Linked DNA regions of Homo sapiens: region 2 is linked to region 1. Evidence: fine-mapped expression QTL. A gene starts in region 1. The other region holds a variant in brackets. All regions are shown on one strand. Distances are from middle to middle. Region 1 holds the start of YARS2 (tyrosyl-tRNA synthetase 2). Region 2 overlaps DNM1L (dynamin 1 like).

Region 1 (2,914 bases):
AAGGAAATCTTCTAAACGCCTTTTAAACATGTGCTTTGCTCTGTTGCACATGAGCTAGCCCTATCCTTCACCTCTCTCAAGAAAATGCTATTAGACCCGCATTACTTGTCAATTATTTGGAGTTGAAAAAACTTTTTGAGATACCAACCAAGGACTAACACTAGTTTCATGGAGGGTGCAGAGCTAAAGCAGAGGCTAGCTACTCAAGGAGGCCCAGTCACGTTCTGGTATAAACACACAAAAGCAGTTTCTCTAATTAGAGAGGACGACTTAGGCGAAGCAAAACAGACCGACCAAATCTTCACTAGTGGTCTGTTTCCCTTTTTTTTTTTTTTTTTTTTGAGACGGAGTCTCCCTCTGTTGCCCCAGGCTGGAGTGCAGTGGCGCGATCTCGGCTCACTGAAACCTTCGCCTCCCGGGTTCAAGAGATTCTCCTGCCTCAGCCTCCCGAATAGCTGGGATTACAGGCGTGCATCACCACGCCCAGCTAATTTTTAGAATACACCGTTTACTCTTAATACCCTTAATTCAGCCCTTTAATTCTTATTAGCCAGTGTTATTAACGCCATTATAGAGCCTTAATGGGGATAAAACCAACAAGAGCTGGAACGAAGGGCAGCAACTACAATCCTAAGAGTGAATCACAGGCTACTAGTGTGTAAATTATTTGGTCCCAGGATTTCCCCAAGGTTTAAAGGCACTTACTTGTTGATGAACTCATATCCGGACATGATGTTGCCTAGTTGATCAGATCCGCCCAGCTGGACCCTGCATCCATAACGCTGGAAGAGGTAATAGAAGTCATAGGCCTGGAGCACCTGGTAAAAGAACTCGGCCAAGCTCATGCCCTCGGGGCTCTTGAGCCGCAGCTGCACGCTCTGCCGGCTCAGCAGCGTCCCCATGCGGAAGTGACCCCCCACTGCCGCCAGGAAGTCCACCAGGTGCTGCTTCTGGTACCAGGCCGAGTTGTCCAGCACAGTGAAGCTGCCCCAGGAGCGCCCATCAGTGAAAAGCTGCTGGTGATTAGCCGCCAGGGCCTCAAGCCCTAGGCGCAGAGCTCGCGCGTTGGCTCGCACGCGCTCTGTCTCCAGCGCCTCGCGTTCCTTGGTACGGCCGCTCGGGTCTCCCAGGCGCGCCGTGGCGCCTCCCACCAGCGCGATCACGTTGTGGCCCGCTCGCTGCAAATGAAACAGGCCCAGCAGCGCAAGTAGATGACCCACATGAAGCGAGTCTGCCGTGGGGTCGAAGCCACAGTAAATGGTTTGGGGAAAACTCGCCGTGCCACGGTCGAAGAGCTCTGGGAGCTCTATTTTCGTCCCCGTCTCCGGGAAGAAGTCCTTGAACAGACCTCGAGCCTTCTGCGCTGCCAGTAACCCCTGAGCGCCCGAGTGGGCCTTACGCAGCCCCAAGGGCAACAATACTGAGAGATTTAGGGTACCAGACCACCGGCCCCAGGAAAAGGACCGCAAGATGGGCGCCGCCATCTTGGTAGCGGCACGAAGGGAATGCTGGGATTGCAGAGGCTCCCACCACACCCACCTACTTACAGCTCCTAGGGAAGGTGCTTCAGTGTTTTTCTGCGCATGCCCGAGACGGTTACGTAGTTACGGAGCTTGCGCTCTCAGCAGTTGAGTCCCGACTCCAAGTGGCGATTCCGCCTCAGAGCCGTCGCCTTACGTTCCCTTAAACTTAATTTTTCCATCAGCAGTGTGGATCTGCTTATGATAGTTCCTACCTCATAAGGCTGTTGTGAGCCTTAAAAATTAAAGCATTTGGCACATAACGCTTCACAAATGCTAACTTGTATTTACATTTTCACGTAAAAAGATTGTGATGCGCAAGTTCTTTGAAGTCTTGGTTCCATGCAAAAAGCTGTTCACAGAGGTTGAGAAAGGTTAGGAATTGGTTTAAGTTCGCGGAGAGATAGGGAGTTGCTGCTGAGACGCAAGCAATTTCATAGTACCGATTCCCTAATTGCACCTCGTCCCCAGTATTCATCGGCTCTTCCAGGAGGTGGCAGTCTTGTCCAAGGTATAGCAAGAAAAACTCAGTGCAATAAAGTACATGCATCAAGTCCTGTGGTTTATTTATTTTAAATACAGTTAACTAGGTTGGGACACAGCTTAGCATGAGTGGATTCAAGTTAGTAATCACATCGTGCAGCGTGACAGGTGCTCTGAATACTGACCAGGGATGAGGTTCTTATTGGCAGCTGGCTGGCAGGTGATCTAGCTTCAAAATCCCATGTTAGAGCCTGATTTCTAGGACCGCTTTCAAAATCGTCTTAGGTAGAATTCCCTGGACTCTGAGTTGGGGGGGAGACTGGTTTGCAGGAGGGTAATTGGAGTGTGCTCTTAAGAACAACACCTATAATGGAGTGAGGGAGGCCGGGTTGGGCGGAGGGAGAAAGAAGTTGAACTGTGAACAATTTGTAATAGAGGCCTCAGGCAATCCAGTAAGGGCTCTGGAGCCGGGATTTCCTTTCAGAGTCATCCTGAATTGAGGCCAGGGGGCAGACCTTTAGACCCTCTTACTGACTGCTCATTAAATGTGGGATGTTTCTGGGGAGGAAGCAAAACGCTGGGTTAAGGCTTTTGGAGAGTGAGATGTGCAGGAAGGGACTCAGCTGTGAGCAATAAGCAACCAACACTCCCAGCAGCTGGGGGATTGAGTGCCTTGGTCCTGTGACTGGGATCTGGGCCATGTTCCAAATCATTCCCTACAGGACTTTTCCATTTTTTAACGTTATAAAGTTATCTAACAAAATGAAAACTTATTTTAATAATTAGTTTCTTTGCATGTATAATTATCAGTGAATTAGTTTCTCATTGCCAAATAGTAACTTCAATAGGATTTTGAGATACTCATTCAATAGGCTATTAAACATACTCCCAACTGCTTAAGAAAATAGTGT
Region 2 (2,914 bases), 71 kb before region 1:
CAGCCTCCTGAGTAGCTGGGACTACAGGCACGCATCTGGCTAATTTTTTTTTTTAAATTTAAAATCGCTGCCTTACTATGTTGCCAAGGCTGGTCTCAAACTCCTGGGCTCAAATGATCCTCTTGCCTTGGCCTCCCAAAGTGCTAGGAGTATAGGTGTGAGCCACTGCACCTAGCCTAAAAATAATTTGGATTTTATTTTATTTTATTATTTATTTTTTTAGAGATGGAGTCTTGCTCTGTTGTCCAGGCTGGAGTGCAGTGGTGCGATCTCAACTCACTGCAACCTCCGCTTCCCGAGTTCAAGTGATTCTCCTGCCTCAGCCTCCTGAGTAGCTGGGATTACAGGTGCATGCCACCACGCCCAGCTAATTTTTGTATTTTTAGTAGAGATGGGGTTTCACTGTGTTGGTCAGGCTGGTCTCGAACTCCTGACCTCATGATCCACTTGCCTTGGCCTCCCAAAGTGCTGGAATTACAGACATGAGCCACTGTGCTCGGCCTAATTTTTGTATTTTTAGTAGAGACAGCATTTTACAACGTTGGCCAGACTGGTCTCAAACTCCTGACCTCAAATGATCTGCCTGCCTCAGCCTCCTGCTGGGATAACAGGTATGAGCCACCATGCCCGGCCAGTAATTTGGATTTTAATTTCTAATTTGCAAATCAACTTTTAAAAATTTAACATTAAAAATACTGAAATATTCATGTAACACAAAATTCACCCTTATAAAGTATACACAACTCAGCAGCGTTTAGTATGTTCACAAAGTTGTACCACCATAGTGTAATTCCAAAATATTTTCATTACCTGAAAAAGAAAACTCCTGCCCATAAGCAGTCACCCCCGTTTTGTCCTCCCCCAGCTTCTGACAGGTTTTGATTTTATAAGCCCCACGTGGGTGAGGGTCCATCGGTGACTCTGATACAGATGGTTCCTAGATCCTAATTTGAAAAATATATTAGTGAATCATTGGATTTTAAAATGCATGATACTGGAAAAAGCAGGTATCACTGGCAACCACTAATCTACTTTTTGTCTGTATGGATTTGCCTATTTGGGATATTTCACATTAGTGGAATCCTATAATATGTGATTTGATCTTTTGTGCCAGGCATCTGTTGCTCAACATAATTCTTTTTTTTTTTCTTTTTTGAGACAGAGTTTTGCTCTGTTGCTCAGGCTGGAGTGCAATGGCACAATCTCAGCTCACTGCAACCCTTCACCTTCCGGGTTCAGGTGATTCTTCTGCCTCAGCCCGGATTACAGGCGCGTGCTACCGCACCCAGCTAATTTTTTTGTATTTTTAGTAGAGACGAGGTTTTGCCATGTTGGCCAGGCTGGTCTCGAACTCCTGACCTCAAGT[G/T]ATCTGCCTGCCTCAGCTTCCCAAAGTGCTGGGATTATAGGCATGAGCCACTCAACATAATGTTTTTTAGGTTCATCCATTATGTAGCATGGCAGAATAATAAATATTACATTGTATAGATACAGCACAGTTTATTCATCAATTGATGAATTTTTGGGTTGTTTCTATTTTTTGGCTATTATGAATAAATAATGCTCTGCGAACATTCGTTTACAAGTTTTTGTGTGAATGTGTATTTTTTTTTTTTTTTTGAGATGGAGTCTCGCTCTGTCACACAGGCTGGAATGCAGTGGCGTGATCTTGGCTCACCGCAAGCTCCGCCTCCCGGGTTTACGCCGTTCTCCTGCCTCAGCCTCCCGAGTAGCTGGGACTGCAGGTGCCCGCTACCACGCCCAGCTAATTTTTTGTTTTTAGTAGAGACAGGGTTTCACCGTGTTAGCCAGGATGGTCTCGATCTCCTCACCTCGTGATCCACCCGCCTCGGCCTCCCAAAGTGCTGGGATTACAGGCGTGAGCCACCGCGCCCGGTCAGTGAATGTGTATTTTTGATTCTCTTGGGTATATATCTAAGCGTAGACTTGCTGATTCATATGATAATTCTTACGTTTAACTTTCTGAAAAACTACCAAAGTGTTTTCCATAGTGGCTGCACCTTTTTTTTTTTTTTTTTTTGAGACAGGGTCTCACTTTCTCGCCCAGACTGGAGTGCTGTGGCGCTATCTTGGCTTACCGCAACCTCTGCCTCCCAGGCTCAAGGCGTTCTCCTGCTTCAGCATCCTGAGTAGCTGGGATTACAGGTGCCCGCCACTACTGCCCGGCTACTTTTTGTATTTTTAGTAGAGGCGAGGGTTTCCTTATATTGGTCAGGCTGGTCTCGAACTCCTGACCTCAAATGATCCACCCACCTCGGCCTCCCAAAGTGCTGGGATTACAGGCGTGAGCTGCTGCGCCCAGCCGTGGCTGCACCATTTCACATCCCCTCCAGGGTTCAGGTTTCTGCACATCCTTATCAACACTTGTTGTTATCTTTTTTTTTTAAGCGCTAAATCATTCTGGAATTCTTTATTTGAAAAACAGCACTTTTTGACACCTATGCCATTTCCTTCTCTTATGGACAACTTTTTTCATAGTTTGATGTCCCTCTCTCTTTTTTTTCTCCATGAGCACTGCTGTCTACATTTTAGCATTTATTGACTATAATTTAATTCCTGCTTATGCATTGTTTTCTTGTGTTCTTAGATAAATTTATGTTTTTCTCTTTTTTTGTATAGATTATGAGCTGCTGCTTTTTTTTAACTTAACAAAATTGAGGTGAAATTTGCAGAACATAAAATTAGCCTTTTTTTTTTTTTTTTTTTTTTGAGATGGAGTTTTGCTCTTGTTGCCCAGGCTGGAGTGCAATGGCGCGATCTCGGCTCACAGCAACCTCCACCTCCCGGGTTCAAGTGATTCTCCTGCCTCAGCCTCTCAAGTAGCTGGGATTACAAGCATGTGCCATGCCTGGCTAATTTTGTATTTTTAGTAGAGACAGGGTTTCTCCATGTTGGT

What was found. PIP is the estimated chance that this variant, and not a neighbour inherited with it, causes the effect.
Region 2: its variant is the best candidate, but not a certain one, in a credible set for the expression of YARS2 in blood mononuclear cells (TOPMed, PIP 0.50).

What each region holds. Positions count from the first base shown.
Region 1 is chr12:32,754,391-32,757,304 of GRCh38, forward strand. YARS2 (tyrosyl-tRNA synthetase 2) reads right to left here and starts at 1,507. Exons shown (of 5, transcript NM_001040436.3): 1 at 706-1,507. The coding sequence starts at 1,484. RefSeq lists enhancers at 447-1,086, 643-802, 1,087-1,726, 1,173-1,272, 1,293-1,522 and 1 more.
Region 2 is chr12:32,683,341-32,686,254 of GRCh38, forward strand. All of the region lies in intron 1 of DNM1L (dynamin 1 like), which reads left to right. Among named protein-coding and RNA genes, the nearest start is that of DNM1L, 5.5 kb to the left of the region's middle. The variant G/T (reference allele first, on the strand shown) is at 1,367.